2 separate regions of the Homo sapiens genome follow, and region 2 is linked to region 1. Evidence: fine-mapped expression QTL. A gene starts in region 1. The other region holds a variant in brackets. All regions are shown on one strand. Distances are between the middles of the regions. Region 1 holds the start of GNA11 (G protein subunit alpha 11). Region 2 overlaps TLE6 (TLE family member 6, subcortical maternal complex member).

Evidence for each region. PIP is the estimated chance that this variant, and not a neighbour inherited with it, causes the effect.
Region 2: its variant is the best candidate, but not a certain one, in a credible set for the expression of GNA11 in whole blood (INTERVAL, PIP 0.59).

Annotation. Positions count from the first base shown.
Region 1 is chr19:3,089,683-3,098,005 of GRCh38, reverse strand. It overlaps GNA11 (G protein subunit alpha 11), which reads right to left and starts at 3,644. Exons shown (of 7, transcript NM_002067.5): 1 at 3,219-3,644. The coding sequence starts at 3,354. RefSeq lists enhancers at 878-1,865, 1,866-2,851, 2,852-3,839 and silencers at 1,892-1,981, 3,136-3,265, 3,586-3,705, 3,726-3,975.
Region 2 is chr19:2,985,014-2,993,336 of GRCh38, reverse strand. It overlaps TLE6 (TLE family member 6, subcortical maternal complex member), which reads right to left. Exons shown (of 17, transcript NM_001143986.2): 6 at 6,446-6,508; 7 at 6,099-6,354; 8 at 5,965-5,981; 9 at 5,547-5,613; 10 at 5,363-5,439; 11 at 5,209-5,246; 12 at 4,024-4,276; 13 at 3,552-3,802; 14 at 1,353-1,494. Among named protein-coding and RNA genes, the nearest start is that of TLE6, 12 kb to the right of the region's middle. The variant G/A (reference allele first, on the strand shown) is at 4,823.

The sequences.
Region 1 (8,323 bases):
TTGTACGCTACCACACAGTAAAGGGTCTCAAATGGGGGCAACGTGCCCCCCAAGGGACAATGGGCACTGTCTAGAGACATCTGTGGTTATCACGACTTGGGGGAGCTCCTGGCATGGAGTGGGTGGAGGCCTCGGACACTGCTCAGCACCCTGCAGTGCCCAGGGCAGCCCCACCCCAGAGACCAACCCGGACCAATGTGCACAGGGCCCCGGGGAGACCTGTTGTACGTAACGGAGAGGCCCATCTGAGGCGTGAACAGCACATTTTAGCCGCCGCGGGAGAGGCGGCACGGCAGCCGGAGCCCCGTCCAGCTCTAGGGCTCCGTAAGGTCCCCCCCACCCCGAAAACGGGGCACGGAATGTCCTCGCCAGGCTGACCGACCTCACAGGCCGTGTGCAGCCCCAGGGAGGCAGTGGATGAGAGCGAGCAGACGCGGCGTTCTTCCAGAACATGCTCCACCTGGTTGCAAACCCAGGAGTCAGGGCAGGGCCCTGGAGCCCTGCTGCCCCAGAGCCTGGAAGAAACCAGCACCACCCACATAAACGAGACCCTCCTGGGCCCCAGATGCCACAGGGGTGTGGTGGCAGGCCCCTGCCTCCCTCCCCGACATCCACTCCACAACGCTGTACGGGAGCCATGGGGGAGGAGGGATGGAGCCCCCACTGCTAAGGGGCAGGGGAGGAAAGAATTCTAGGGAGAGGCAGACCCAGCTTGGCTGGGCCTCCTGCGGAGTGCCAGGACCTCCACCCAGAGGTCTCTGAACATTCCGTGGGCCGCAGGCGCCATAGCCACCTGCTGCAGCCCAACAGCCCCTTCCTTCCGGGGAGCCTCGGCCCCACCCTCTAGCTGCTCCCTGAAAAACGGGGGCAATCGCAAGCTCGGGGCTGGCCTACTGGGAGAGTGGAATGAGTTCCCACAAGCAGGCAGGGAGCCTGACAGAGGTCCCCTCCCCTGCACCCTGAGGCCCCAGCCCCTGGACCTCAGGTGGTCAAAGTCCTCCCAGCAAGGGGCCCTCCAGCTGGGATGCAAGGTTGCTTGGACGGGAAGTTTTCTGAGGGTCTGTCGCATCAGATTCCCAAAGGGGTCCCTGGCTCCAACACCTTGGGTGTGAAGCCCTCCCAACCCCCTGACAGCCCCGGCTCTCTGCGTGGCACTGACACCAGTCCTCCTTGGGTCGCACGTGAGCTCACATCTTCCTCACTGTCCTATCTGCCACGCCTGGCCCTGAGCCTGACAGCAACCTCCCGTCTTACAGGCTGATAGGGGTCAACTTTCAGGCTCACAGAGTGGGAGGGGGTGGGACTGCAGACACAGGTGCTCCTGCAGCAGACACCCCCGGGCCACAGGCGGGCACTGGACAGAGGATGCGGGAAGGGCCGCATCACTTCCAGACTTGCTCCAAGCAGCCAAGGCGGCAGACACGGGAGCCCCTGACCTTCGTCCTTGAACCCCGTGTCAATCTCAAGTCCAAAGTGCAGGCACAGAAGACCGGGTGCATGCAGGGATGGCGGCGGGGGTTCTGGAGGTCACAGAGCCACAGGGCAAGGCCATCTGGTAAGATCTTTATGACACCAGTAATTCCTAACTCCCCTCCATCCAAACAAAGTCCACGACCCACTACAAAAGCCAGCCAGTGCCACTCTGTGCAAAGTGCCACCACGCGGGCCGCACTGCACATTTCCTCCAAACGTGAGGACCACGGCTCTGCCTACCCGCGGCCCCCTGGAAAGATGGCCCATTTTAGAACCCTTAGGTAAATCAAAACACAAGTTTGGGGAAAAAAATCAGGAAGGCGTTTCATCCAAGGCACCTCTGTAACCCGGGACACGGAGGGCCCTAAGAGGCTCACGGCAGGAGAGGCAACGTGTTCCCCACACAACATGCGACCTGCCTCCTCCCCAAGAGCCACCGCCACCAGCACGCCCCCTCCTCCGTCACCGCTGCCTCTCACGCATTTCCGACCTTCCCCACCGCCCCGCCCCCGGCCCAGGAGCTAACCTAGGAGCTCGGGAGGGCAGGGGCGGGGCAGGGCAAGAGCTTCTGTTTTGTAAACCACTGAAGGGGCCCTTATTTGGAGTGACAACACTTTACAGCTGGCCCGACTGGCTCCCTGCAGCAGGTGTGCCTTGGGGAGAAGGAGGTTCACCAGCAAACCTTCTCCAGGACGGTGGGGAGGAGCCGGCAGGTGGGGGGCTGCTCTCAACGAGGACTCAGCGTGGCTCCCACCAGGACTCTAAGGAAGGGGGCGGGGGAGGCTGCCGAGATAGCTGCTTGGGACAACAAGCAAAGGCTCCCTCAGGTGTCAACCGCCCCACCCTCAGCTGAGCGGAACCCTGAGGAGAGGAAAGACTGTCTTTTTCCCACAGGGTGCATTCCAGCCAAGAGGAGTACGGGGTTTCCCGGAACAGGAAGGCAGGAGAATGGCCCTGAAGGGAATGTGGGGATAGGGGACACGGAGGAGTCTTCGGGGGGATGGGGGGGTGTACAGGGCCTGCATGGAGGGTACAGGGCCTGCATGGAGTGTACAGGGCTCTGCCTGGAGGGAAGGGTCAACGCGGGGCCCTGAGCAGTGAGGGGTGAGTGTGCCCTGTGGGTTACAGCCCAAAGGTCTGGCCCTGAAGGGGTAGCGAGGGGTGGGTACTCCGGTGGGGTAAGGTCAGAAGGTCCCTGTGCAGGGAGGGACTGGTCCCTTGAGAAGGAACAGAGGGCAAATCCTGAAGAGTCCTGGAGGCCCAATGTAGACAGCAGAAGCTGGGAGCTGACCTAGGAGTGATCGGGGGCCTGATCCAGACAGGACAGACACAGGCTGACACCGGAGAGTCCCAGGTGCCAACATGAACAGTTAAGGCAGGGGCTGACCCCAAAGAAATCAGGGGCCCGCAGCTGACCCCGGAGGGTCCCAGGTGCCGACCTAGACAGCAAAGGCAGGGCTGACCCCAGAGGGTCCCGAGCCGACCCAGACGACACAGGCAGGGCTGATCCCGGAGGGCCCCGCCCCGACCCGGACAGGCAGTGAAGGCACAGGCAGGGCTGACACTCGAGGGTCCCGCGACCCGGACAGGCAGGGAAGGCACAGGCAGGGCTGACCCCGGAGGGTCTCGCGACCCGGACGGCACAGGCAGGGCTGACCCCGGAGGGTCCCGGCCCGACCCGGACAGGCAGGGCAGGCACAGGCAGGGCAGGGCCCGCAGCCGGCAGGCCCGGGGGCCGCACTCACCGAGCAGCAGCAGCTTGAGCTCGCGCCGGGCGTCGCGCTTGTCCCGCCGCAGCTGCTTCTCGATCTCGGCGTTGATCCGCTTGGACTCCTTCACCTCATCGCTCAGGCAACACGCCATCATGGACTCCAGAGTCATCGTCCCGGCCCCGGCCGACGCGGCCGCCTGCCCGCCGCCGCCCCCCGGCCCCCGGCCCGGCCCTGGCCGGAGCCGCCTCGGCCGCCGCCCGCCGCGGCCCTCCGGCCTCGGCCACCGGCCCTCGGCCCCGGGCCGGCCCGCCCCGCCTCGGCCGCCGCCTGGCGAGCCGCCGGGTCCCCGCTCGGGCCGCGCCAGCCGCGGACTCCCGCGCGGCCGCACTCAGCCCGCGCCGCCGCCGCAGCCACCGCCAACCGCAGCCGCCGCAACCGAGCGACAGCGCCGGACAACCTAGCAGGCTGGGAGCGCAGCCCGCGACGGGCAGACGGTGCGGCCAATGGGAGGGGCCGGCGGCCAAGCGCGCCCACCATGGGGGCGGGACTAGCGGCCTGGGCGGGGCGTCGGCGGGCGCGAAAGGGGCGGGGCGGGGCGAGGGCGGGGGGCCCGCGGGTTTGGTTGCGCCGACGTGGGAAGGGGGACGCGCAGCCGGGAGCCGGGGCGGGGCCGCCCGGGATTGTGGGAATGTGGCGGACTCGGCCCGGCCAGGCTCGGCTCCGCTCGGCTCCGTTCGGCCCCGCTCGGTCCCGCTCGGCTCGGCCCAGGCGCGGTGGCGGAGGCGCGCACGCGGCCGCTGCGCTCTCTGGGTCTCCAGGTGCCTGGGCAGCAGTCGCTGCCCCCGGGAAGCGCCCTGACATTGCCTGACAGGAACCTTCACTCATCCATTAAAAAGCGTTAATGGAGGTCGGGCGCGGTGGCTCACGCCTGTAATCCCAGCACTTTGGAAGGCCGAGGCGGGCGGATCACCTGAGGTCTGGAGTTCGAGACCAGCCTGACCAACAGGGAGAAACGCCGTCTCTACTAAAACTACAAAATTAGCCCGGCGTGGTGGTGCACGCCCGTAATCCCAGCTACTCGGGAGGCTGAGGCAGGAGAATCACTTGAACCCAGGAGGCGGAGGTTGCAGTGAGCCGAGATCACGCCATTGCACTCCAGCCTGGGCAACAAGAACGAAACTCCGTCTCCAAAGAAAAAAAAAAAAAAAGAGGGCCGGGCGCGGTGGCTCACGCCTGTAATCCCAGCACTTTGGGAGGCCGAGGCGGGTGGATCACGAGGTCAGGAGATCGAGACTATCCTGGCTGACACGGTGAAACCCCGTCTCTACTAAAAATACAAAAAATTAGCCGGGCGTGGTGGCGGGCGCCTGTAGTCCCAGCTACTCGGGAGGCTGAGGCAGGAGAATGGCGTGAACCCGGGAGACGGAACTTGCAGTGAGCTGAGATCATGCCACTGCACTCCAGCCTGGGCGACAGAGCGAGACTCTGTCTCAAAAAAAAAAATTAAAAAGCGTTAATGGGACACCTACTGTGTATCAGGCATTAATGGGACACATTCTATATGCCAGGCACGGACCAGAGATTAATGGAGTGCCTGCTGTCCATCAGGTGTCAATCAGGCCTTACTGCAGTGCCTGCACCATTCCAGGCCAGGTATACGCATTCATGAAATGCCTACAGGATACCAGGCACTGCTGTAAGCCCGTTAAGCTAACCCTACCCAAGGGATATCTTTTTTTTCTTCTTCTTTTTTTGAGATGGAGTCTTGCTCTGTCGCCCAGGCTGGAGTGCAGGGGCGTGATCTAGGTTCATTGCACCCTCTGCCTCACAGGCTCTAGTGATTCTCCTGCCTCACCCTCCCAAGTAGCTGGGATTACAGGCGCGCCACCATGCCTGGCTAATTTTGTATTTTTAGTAGAGAGCGGGTTTCGCCACGTTGGCCAGGCTGGTCTCAAACTCCTGGCCTCTAGTGATCTGCCCTCCTCGGCCTCCCAAAGCGCTGGGATTATAGATGTGAGCCACCTCACCCAGCCATATCTTTATCCTTACTTTGCAGATGAAATGGAAGTGGCCACCAGAATTTATAAAAACGTGTGTTCCCACCACCTTGCTGACTACTGAAAACCCTTTTCCCTCTCTGGCCTCCTTGGCCAACCCCTGAGCATCCTCTCCGTTTCAATTCAGACGTCAGCTCCTCAGGGAGACTTCTCCTGACTCCTCAGACCAAGCCAGGTACCTTCTCTTGAGCCACAACTTGAAATTGTATGTTCTGGCCAGGTGCGGCAGCTCCTGCCGGTAATCCCAGTACTTGGGAGGCCAAGGCAGGTGGACCGCTTGAGCTCAGGAGTTCGAGACCAGCCTAGATAACATGGCGAAACCCCATCTCTACTAAAAATACAAAAAATTAGATGGGTGTGGTGGCACATGCCTGTAATCCCAGCTACTCGGGAGGCTGAGAGGATCACTTGAGCCCAGGAGGCAGATGTTGCAGTGAGCGGAGATGGGGCTACTGCACTCCAGCCTGGGACACAAGAGTGAGACCCTGTATCAAAACAAAACAAAACAAAACACCAGAGTGGCCAACATGGTGAAACCCCCTCTCTACTAAAAATACAAAAATGACCCGGGCGTGGTGGCGGGCACCTGTGGTCTCAGCTACTTTTGCTGAGGCAGGAGAATCGCTTGAACCCGGGAGGCAGAGGTTGCAGGGAGCTGGGATCATACCACTGCATTCCAGCCAGGGCAACAGAACGAGACTCCGTCTCAAAAAAAAAAAAAAAAAAAGGCCGGGTGTGGTGGTTTATGCCTGTAATCCCAGCACTTTGGGAGGCCGAGGTGGGCAGATCACCTGAGATCGGGAGTTCAAGACCAGCCTGACCACCATGGAGAAACCCCGTCTCTACTGAAAATACAGAATTAGCCAGGCACGGTGGCTCATGCCTGTAATCCCAGCTACTTGGGAGACTGAGGCAGGAGAACCTCTTGAACCCGGGAGGCGGAGGTTGCAGTGAGCTGAGATCGCACCATTGCACTCCAGCCTGGGCAACAAGAGAGAAACTCCGTCCAAAAAAAAAAAAAAACAAAAAAGCAGGGTGTGGTGGCTCATGCCTGTAATCCCAGCACTTTGGAAGGCCAAGGCAGGCAGATCACTTGAGGTCAGCAGTTTGAGACCAGCCTGGCTAACATGGCAAAACCCTGTCTCTATTAAAAATACAAAAAAATTAGTGGACACCTGTAATCCCAGCTACTCGGGAGGCTGAGGCAGCAGAATCTCTTGAACCCAGGAGGTGGACGTTGCAGTGAGCCGAGACCACACCACTGCACTCCAGCCTGGGCGACAAGCGTGAAACTCCATCTCCAAAAAAAAAAAAGAAAGAAATTATATATTCTTCTGGGTGCCTCTCTGTAGACTCAGTTTCCCAAATTGGCCATCAGCTCCATGAGGTCAGAGCCTGTCTGGTTCACCTAGAACAAAGATTGGCAATCCACAACCCTCGGCCCTATGGTCCATAAGCTTCGAATGGCTTTTACTTTTTTTTTTTTTGAGACGGAGTCTTGCTCTGTCGCCCAGGCTGGAGTGTAGTGGCATGATGTCAGCTCACTACAAGCTCCGCCTCCCAGGTTCACGCCATTCTACTGCCTCAGCCTCCCGAGTAGCTGGGACTACGGCACCCGCCACCACGCCTGGCTAATTTTTTTGTTGTATTTTTTAGTAGAGATGGGGTTTCACCGTGTTAGCCAGGATGGCCTCAATCCCCTGACCTCGTGATCTGCCTGCCTCGGCCTCCTAAAGTGTTGGGATTACAGGCGTGAGCCACCGCGCCCAGCCTGGCTTTTACATTTTTAAACGGTTTTAAAAAATCAAAAGAAAGTAATATTTAGGTAGACATAAAAATTATATGGAACTCAAATTTCAGTGTCCATGTATAGGATTTTGTTGGAAGCCAGTCACATCCATTGATTTCCATACTGAGTGTGGCTACTCTTACCCCACAGGGCAGCATTACAAGAACTCTTCAAAGATTTCCTATGTGGTCCCTTACAGAAAGAGACCTAGAATGAGGCTCTAACACACACTAGGTGCTCAATCGATGTGTTTGGAATGATGGGAAAGGAATTAAAAAGCCTGGTCTGGGAAGAGTGGCTCATGCCTGTAATCCCAATACTTTGGGAGGCCAAGGCAGGAGGACTGCTTGAGGCCAGGAGTTTGAGACCAGCCTGGGCAGCATAGCAAGACCCCCACGTACACACCCTACAAAAGTAAAAATAAAATTTGCTGGGCACGGTGGCTCACGCCTGTCATCCCAGCACTTTGGGAGGCCAAGGCAGGCAGATGACCTGAGGTCAGGAGTTCAAGACCAGCCTGGCCAACATGGTGAAACCCCGTCTCTACTAAAAATACAAAAATTAGCCGGGCATGGTGGCTTGCACCTATATTCTCAGCTACTCCGGAGGCGGAGGCAGGAGAATCGCTTGAACCCAGGAGGTGGAGGTTGCAGTGAGCCGAGATCACACCAGGAGGTGGAAGTTGCAGTGAGCTGAGATCGCACCACTGCACTCCAGCCTGGGCGACACAGTGAGACTCCACCTCAAAAAATAAAATAAAATAATGAAATAAAATTAGCCGGGCATGGTAGCGTGTGCCTGTAGTCCCAGCTATTCAGGAGGCCAAGGTGGGAGGATCACTTGAGCCCAAGAAGTCAATGCTGCAGTGAGCCATGATTGCACCACTGCACTCCAGCCTGGGTAACAGAATAAGACCCTGTCTCAAAAACTGAAATTAAGGCAGGTGCAGTTGCTCACGCCTATAATCCCAGGACTTTGGGAGGCCAAGGCAGGAGGATCACTTGAGCCCAGGAGTTCAAGACCAGGGTCTCAACATAGTGAGACCCTGTCTCTACAAAAAAAAAAAAAAAAAAAAAAAAAAAAAGACAAAGGGAAGATACTAAAAATGAATACTAGAGCCTAGATTGTTCTTGGAGCTGGAAATTCATTTTAAAGAGGAGGAAACTGAGGCACCATTGCATACAACTTCGCTGACTGCCACGCCTCTCCCAGCCCCTGACACTGCCTGACCTCCCCACCACCTCCTCCCTCTACCTGGCCCTTCCCAGTTTCCAAATGTCAGGAGCCTATCC
Region 2 (8,323 bases), 100 kb after region 1:
TGACTGACCCCTTCCTAGCTGTGCAGCCCTGGGACAAGCAACTTCGTATCTGTGCCTCAGTTTGTTGGTGTGTAAAATGGAGAGTCTTCCCTACTTTGCACCTGATACAGCATGAGTGTTTATTTTGAGACGGAGTCTCGCTCTGTTGCCGGGCTGGAGTACAATGGTACGATCTCGGCTTACGACAACGTCTGCCTCCTGGGGTTTAAGCGATTCTCCCGCCTCAGCCTCTTGAGTAGCTGGGACTACAGGCATGCGCCACCATGCCTGGCTAATTATTCTGTTTTTTTTTTTTTTTTTTTTTTTTTTTAGTAGAGACGGGGTTTCACCATGTTGGTCAGGCTGTTCTTGAACTTCTGACCTCAAATGATCCACCCGCCTTGGCCTCCCAAAGGGCTGGGATTACAGGCGTGAGACACTGCGCCCGGCCTGCAAAGAATATTTCTAATGATCTCTGTGTTTGGAGCATCAGTGAGACTTAGAACCACTACCTTTTTTCCTTCCCAGAGTTCATCCTCCCCCCCCCCCACCCGCCTCCCCCCCTTTTTTTTTTTTTTGAGACAGGGTCTCACTCTGTCACCCAGGCTGGACTACAGTCACTGGTATGATCACAGTTCACTGTGGCCTCAGCCTCCCCGGGCTCAAGCCATTCTCTCACCTCAGCCTCCCAACTAGCTGCGACCCCAGGTACGTGCCACCATGCTCAGCTAATTTTTATTTTTATTTTTTGTAGAAACAGGGTCTCACTATGTTGCCCAGGCTGGTCTCAAACTCCTGGGCTCAAGTCTTCCTCCCACTTCTGCCTCCCAAAGTGGTGGGATTGCAGGCATACGCCACTGTGCCTGGCCAACCTCATTTGTTTTTGAGACAGAGTTTCGCTCTTATTGCGCAGCCTGGAGTGCAATGGCACGATCTCGGCTCACCACAACCTCCACCTCCCGGGTTTAAGCGATTCTCCTGCCTCAGCCTCCCGACTAGCTGGGATTATAGGCATGTGCCACCATGCCTGGCCAATTTTGTATTTTTAGTAGAGACGGGGTTTCACCATGTTGGTCAGGCTCGTCTTGAACTCCCGACCTCAGGTGATTTGCCCTCCTCGGCCTCCAAAAGTGCTGGGATTACAGGTGTGAGCCTCTGCGCCCAGCTCTGATTTTTGTATTTTTAGTGGAGATGGGGTTTCACTATGTTGGCCACGCTGGTCTCAAACTCCTGACCTCAGGTGATCCACCCACCTTGGCCTCCCAAAGTGCTAGGATTATAGGCGTGAGCCACGGAGCCCGGCCTCAACCTCATTTTTTAATCTGAGGACCAGAGGATGCCTGGCCAAGCAGACCCCATCCCGGCCTCCGCACCTGAGACTTGAATTGGTACTCCAGAGGTTTCATGATGGTCCTCTGGTCCCAGCACCGCAGACAGGCATCCGGACCCCCAGTCCAGATGTTGTAGCCCTTGACCACGATACTCTTGACTCCATCAGGATAACCCTTGAGGTCCCTGGCCAGAAGGGACATCGGGAGGCAATCAGGTCAAGACTCTGAGGTTTGGGCCCCCGGAAACACCAGTCACTACATTTGGGCATGAAAGGGACAGTGCCACCACCCAAAAATCTCTGCCTGCACAGAGTGTCAAAGTTGGCAGAAAACAGACACAGGATCTAGTGCCGGCCCCTCCCAGCCCTCAGCCTCCCTTCTCCGTCCGCCTGGGCCTCCCCTTGGCCTCACCTAGGCCTCCCCTTGCCTCTTCCACCCTGAGTCCACCCGAGCTCTGAGGCAGGTCTACAGGAATCCCTTCAAGCAGGGAAGGGGAATAGTGCCGGGCGGGTGGTGTGCTGTATTTTACGTCAGCCATTGCTTCCTGCAAACATATGCTGATAGATATCTTATATGTTATAAATACATATATTATATATATGTGTGTGTGTGTGTGTGTGTGTGTGTGTGTATATATATATATATATATACGTATTTTTTTTTTTTTTGAAATGGAGTCTCGTTTTGTTGCCCAGGCTGGAGTGCAGCAGCACGATCTCAGCTCACTGCAACCTCTGCCTCCTGGGTTCAAGCGATTCTCCTGCCTCAGCCTCCCGAGTAGCTGGCATTACAGGCATGGGCCACCACGCCTGACTAATTTTGTATTTTTAGTAGAGATGGGGTATCTCCATGTTAGCCTGGTCTCAAACTCCCGACCTCAGGTGATCTGCCCGCCTCGGCTTCCCAAAGTGCTGGGATTACAGGCATGAGCCACCATGCCCAGCCTATTTACATATATTTAATATGTGTGTGTGTATACATATATGTATGTATGTATGTATGTATGTATGTATGTATGTAAAATTTTTTTTTGAGTCAGAGTCTCACTCTGTGACCCAGGCTGGAGTGCAGTGGCACCATCTTGGCTCACCACAAACTCCGCTTCTCAAGCGATTCTCCTGCCTCAGCCTCCGGGGTAGCTGGGATTACAGGCATGTGCCACCACGCCGGCTAATTTTCATATTTTTTAGTAGAGAGGGGGTTTCGCCATGTTGGCCAGGCTGGTCTTGAGCTCCTGGCCTCAAGTGATCCACCCACCTCGGCCTCCCAAAGTGCTGGGATTACAGGTGTGAGACACCGCACCCAGACTGTTTTTTATATATGTATATATTTATGTATATATTTATGTATATATTTATGTATATATTTATGTATTTATATATATATTTATTTATATATGTGTGTATTTTTTTTTCTTTTTTGAGACAGAGTCTTGCTCTGTCGCCCAGGCTGGGAACGCAGTGGCACAGATCTCGGCTCACCGCAAGCTCCGCCTCCCGGGTTCAAGGGATTCTCCTGCCTCAGCCTCCCGAGTAGCTGGGACTACAGGTACCCACCACCGCGCCTGGCTAATTTTTTTGTAGTTTTAGTAGAGACAGGGTTTCACCGTGTCAGCTAGAATGGTCTTGATCTCCTGACCTCGTGGATCTGCCTGCCTCGGCCTCCCTAACTGCTGGGAGTACAGGCGTGAGCCACTGCGCCCGGCCAATTTATATATACATATTTTTAAATAGACTATATAAAAATTCTATTTAATTTTTATTAAATAAAATTTATTCTATTTAATAAAAATAGAATAAATTCGTTTTATTCATTACCCAGGTTAATCTCGAATTCCTGGGCTTAAGCATTTGTCCCGTCTTGACCTCCCAAAGTGCTGGGTTTACATGTTTGAGGCACCAGGCCTGGCCTGCTGTTTTATATTTTTACAACAAATTTGCCCTCTAACAAGCCTTTGAGTTTGGGGCTGTCACATCCTGTGTCCAGGTGGGGAAACTGAGGCAGACAAAAAGTAAAATGCCCTGGGCTGCAAGGAACGCAGTCCAGCCAAGATTCAAGTCCGCACCTCTAAACTTTCTCAAATCCAAGTTCAAGGGGGCAAGGGGTTTTGGCTGGGAGAGTGCTATATCCCAGGTTCAGGAGGTGGCAGGAAGGCGGGCAGAGGTGGTAGCAGTAAGGTGGGCAGAGGTGGCCACAGGAGGCTGGCACAGGATGCTTCCCCTTCCCACCCCCCAAACGCACCTGACCACACTCTGATCCCGCAGGTCCCAGATCCTGACCACACCACTGGTGAAGCTGGCGAAGGCCAGGTTGGCATCCAGGTTGGCATCCAGGGCCTGGCAGTTGAGACCTGCACAGGGCAACTGCTCCTTCACATGCAGGGAGGGCGCCGCCAGGTCCCACACGCTCACGCTGGCCAGGTTGTAGCCACCGGTGAGCAGGCTCCTGCTGTTTGAGGACAGCAGGCAGGTGCGCAGGAAGGCCCCAGGGGTCTGGGATGGGCAGAGTCACTGTGAGCTGTCGCCCCCCGTGGCATTCTGCCTGGACTGCTTTGCCTCATGAGAGCGAACTCCTATTCATCCTTTAGGTTCCTAGCTATTATGCCCCTTTTCCCTGGAAGCCCTCTCTCCACGATCTGGGCTCTGCCAGACTCAAACCTCAAACCCCCTGTTCCCAGAAGCCCTGCATCCCTGGAAACCAAGGCCGTCCTCACCTGTATAGGCAGGTGGCTCTCAGGGAACCTGTCCTCAGCCACCTGTCCAGTCAGGCTCCACACCTTGATGCCTCTTCTGCCACAGGTGAACACGTGCCGCGTGAAGCTGCTGATGGCCGTGGCGAGCACGAGCTCCCCGTGTGCCAAGATCCGCATCTTTTCCAGTTTGCACGGGACGGCGAGTCTCTTTGACTGCCCGGGCAAGGCATCTGGCCTCTTCCATGCATCTTCAAAGTCCTCAGGGTCCCAGGATCTTGGGAGGGGAGGCCTTGGGGTAACTGACCTGCTTGTGAGCCCCTTTGCCCAGTGGGAGCCACACATCAAGGCCTAGAGGGGCTTCTTTTTCAGATTTTGGGGTCCCTCTCTCAGGCCTTGTTTTACCCTCTAGACTCCCCTCAATGTCCTGCTCATATTCCTTCAAGTATTGTCCCTTTGCCACAGCCCTCCACATACTTCTGCCTTCTTCCTAGACTGCTTTGCCCCAGGAGGAAGAACTCCTATTCATCCTTTATGGTCCTAGCTATTATGCTCCTTCCCCAGAAAAGCCTTCTTTGCCCCACCTGGGTTCTCCCAGCATCACTCCACAAGGTTGGGACAATCTGCATCCAGTTCTAACACAGCTACACCCCATCCCCTTCCATGAAAAAGTCTTCCCCAAATGCCTTGAGCCCAGTGTTGGGGCGGCGATCCTGTGAGCCTAACACTGCACTTTTTTTTTGAGACGGAGTCTTGCTGTCACTCAGGCTGGAGTGCAGTGGCGCGATCTCAACTCACTGCAACCTCCACCTCCCGGGTTCAC[G/A]CCATTCTCCTGCCTCAGCCTCCCGAGTAGCTGGGACTAAAGGCACCCACCACCACGCCTGGCTAATTTTTTTTGTATTTTTAGTAGAGACGGGGTTTCACCGTGTTACCCAGGATGTTCTCAATCTCCTGACCTCGTGATCTGCCCGCCTCGGCCTCCCAAAGTGCTGGGATTACAGGCGTGAGCCACCGCGCCCGGCCTAACACTGCACTTTTCTACCCAGCCTCTGCAGCGGCTGTTGGAGAGGATGGCAGAGTAGTGATGGGAAAAGGGGAAGAAAGTCTTACACCTCTGTTCCCCTCTATGTGTCGGGAACAGAGGTATAGACAGGAAGGAATTCCCGCTGCCCCTCACCCCGCCCAAAAGCAAACAGTGCAGACACTTACATGGACTGTAGAAACCGAGAGGCTCTTCCAGGAGGCTCCTGCAGGCGGGGGAGATCACAGCTGCCCCCAGCCTCCCCGCACATCTGTGCCCACCTCCTCTACCCCACCCTGGGCAGCCTTCACGCTGGGCTACCAGCTCGGGCCTGGGTCTCACCTGGACCACACCCCAACTTGTGTTCCTGTCTTGGGAACCCTCAGGGGGACTGGAGGAGGCCTCAGGTGGCCTGGGGGCTAGTGGGGAGACAAGAGGGGCTAAGCGGCTTGCATTGGCTCCTCAGCACAGGATGCCCCCACCCCATCCCGCCTGGAGTCGGTCGGCCCCTGCCCGCTGGGATTACTGGAGGCATCTTCAGGACATGGGTCTGTTCCTGGGTCACAGGATCCTGGTGCCTTGCTTTCCTGCCCCTGGAAAATGGAAAAGTCTCATCAGGCCTGCTGACCTGCCTGTTAGGACCAGAAGACCTCGGATTCCTGGGCAGCTTGCACAGGGCTTGTCAGCTGCCTGGGGTCCTGTCTGCGGGTCCAGGCAGAGTTGCAGAGAGAGAGTCAGGGTATAGGGTCCTGGAAGCCCTGGGCTGTGGGTCCTGGGCTACTCCAGTATAGCCTCCTGGATCACCCAAGTCCCCCCCGGGGGACCCGAGGGGCAGGATGGAAGGAAGACAAATCCCACAGGAACCCCAGTGCCCTGACCTGGGGGAGCCCAACCGCCTGCCCGGAAGCCCACCCCTCTGGATAGAGCTGAGGTTGTTTACTCACCAGGCCTGGTGCCTGCTCTGTCACCATGACAACGGAGAGGAGGAGGGGGACAGAGAGAACAGCAGGGTTCACTGCACAGCCCCTGAGACGCAGCCTGTGGCTGCCCCTTCCCCCTCACCCTCAGGGACACTCACGTCTGTCTCTGGGCTTTGCCTTCTCATCGTGGACGCCGGCAAAAATCCGCCAGAGTTGCTCGGTCAGAGTGTCGTGCCAAAACCAAGGCTCCTTGTCCCAGAACAGCTGGGTCTCCGGCTGATTGTCCTCCCCCAAAGGCCGCCGGAGCCAGTCGGAGGACCTGGTGGCCATGATGTCCTCAAAGCTCGACTCCTGCAGGGTCTTGTCCTTCACCTGCTGGGGCGTCCCAGGGCTGGCTGGTTCAGCAGGTGAGACCTGGCCCGGCAGGAACAAGGCAGTGAGAGCTTTGAGGATGAGCCTTCACCCAAGCCTGTCCCCTCCCCTCCTTGAAGACCCAGAAACTCACCTCCTCAGACTGGAAACCCTGGAGTTGGCTGCAGCTCTCCACAATCTGTAAGACGTTTCCTATCTAGAAGGAGGTTGGCAGCAAAACAGTTAAATGTTGTTGCAGTTAAGGGTTTGCAATCCTACAGCATGATTATCCCCACCTGTAGAAGAAGGTATATCAATCTACTTGTTTTTTTGAGACAGAGTCTCACTCTGTCACCCAAGCTGGAGTGCAGTGGTGCAATCTCGGCTCACTGCAACCTCCGCCTCCCAGGTTCAAGTGGTTCTCCTGCCTCAGCCTCCTGAGTAGCTGGGATTACAGGTGCACACCACCACACCCAGCTAATTTTTGTATTTTTAGTAAAGATGGGGTTTCACCATGTTGGCCAGGCTGGTCTCCAACTCCTGACCTCAGGTGATCTGCCCACCTCAGCCTCCCAAAGTGCTGGGATTATAGGCATAAGCCACCACCCCCAGCCTTCATCTACTTTTTTGCAGATAAGATCTCACTCTGACACCCAGGCTGGAGTGCAGTGGTGCGATTACAGCTCACTGCACCCTCAACCTCCCAGGCTCAAGTGATCCTCCCATCTCAGCCTCCTGAGTAGCTGGGGTTACAGGTATGCACCACCACGCTCAGCTAATTTAAATACACTTTTTGTAGAAATGGGAGTCTCATTATGTTGGCCAGGCTGGTCTTGAATTCCTGGCCTCAAACTATCCTCCCACGTGTGCCTCCCAAAGTGCTGGGATAACAGGTTTAAGCCACCGCATCCGGCCTATCGCACCTGGCATATATCTTTTTTTTTTTTTTTTTTTTTTTTTTTTTTTTTTTTTTTGAGACAGTCTCACGCTGTGGCCCAGGCAGGAGTGCAGTGATGTGATCTCGGCTCACTGCAACCTCCGCCTCCTGGGTTCAAGCAATTCTCCTGCCTCAGCCTCCCAAGTAGCTGGATTACAGGCGTGTGCCACTACACAGACTGATTTTTGTATTTTTGGTGGAGACAGGGTTTCACCATGTTGGCCGGGCTGGTCTTGAACTCTTGACCTAAGATGATTCTCCTGCCTTGGCCTCCCAAAGTGCTGGGATTACAGGTGTGAGCCACCACACCTGGCCCCAGCTACTCTTTTTGGGATGTTTTAAAAAGAAAACCTGACCACCACCACACTTTGCTTCAAATGACTTCAAGCAGGCCGGGTGCGGTGGCTCACGCCTGTAATCCCAGCACTCTGGGAGGCCGAGGCGGGCGGATCATGAGGTCAGGAGATTGAGACCATCCTGGCTAACATGGTGAAACTCCATCTCTACTAAAAATACAAAAAAAAAAAAAAAAATTAGCCAGGCATGGTGGCAGGTGCCTGTAGTCCCAGCTACTCGGGAGGCTGAGGCAGGAGAATGGCTTGAACCCAGGAGGCGGAGCTTGCAGTGAGCCCAGATGCGAGATGATGCCACCGCACTCCAGCCTGGGTGACAGAGCGAGACTTGTCTCAAAAAAAAAAAAAAAAAAAAAGGCTTCAAGCAGCAAAACAGCATACCTAGGTCTCCCTAGGTGAGGAAGACGTTTTAATTTGCTTAAACTTTGGAAAGATACTAAGAAACTGAGGGTTACCTGCTGGGGAGAATTGATAGAAACAAGTCAGTGGTAATTTTTTTTTCTCTTTTGAGACAGTCTTGCTCTGTCGCCCAGGCTGGAGTGCAATGGCACCACCTCTGCTCACTGTAACCTCTGCCTCCTGGGTTAAAGCAATTCTCCTGCCTCAGGCTCCCAAGTAGCTGGGATTACAGGCACCCGCCACCATGCCCAGCTAATTTTGTATTTTTAGTAGAAATGGGGTTTCTCCATGTTGGCCAGGCTGGTCTCGAACTCCTGACGTCAGGTGATCTGCCCACCTCAGC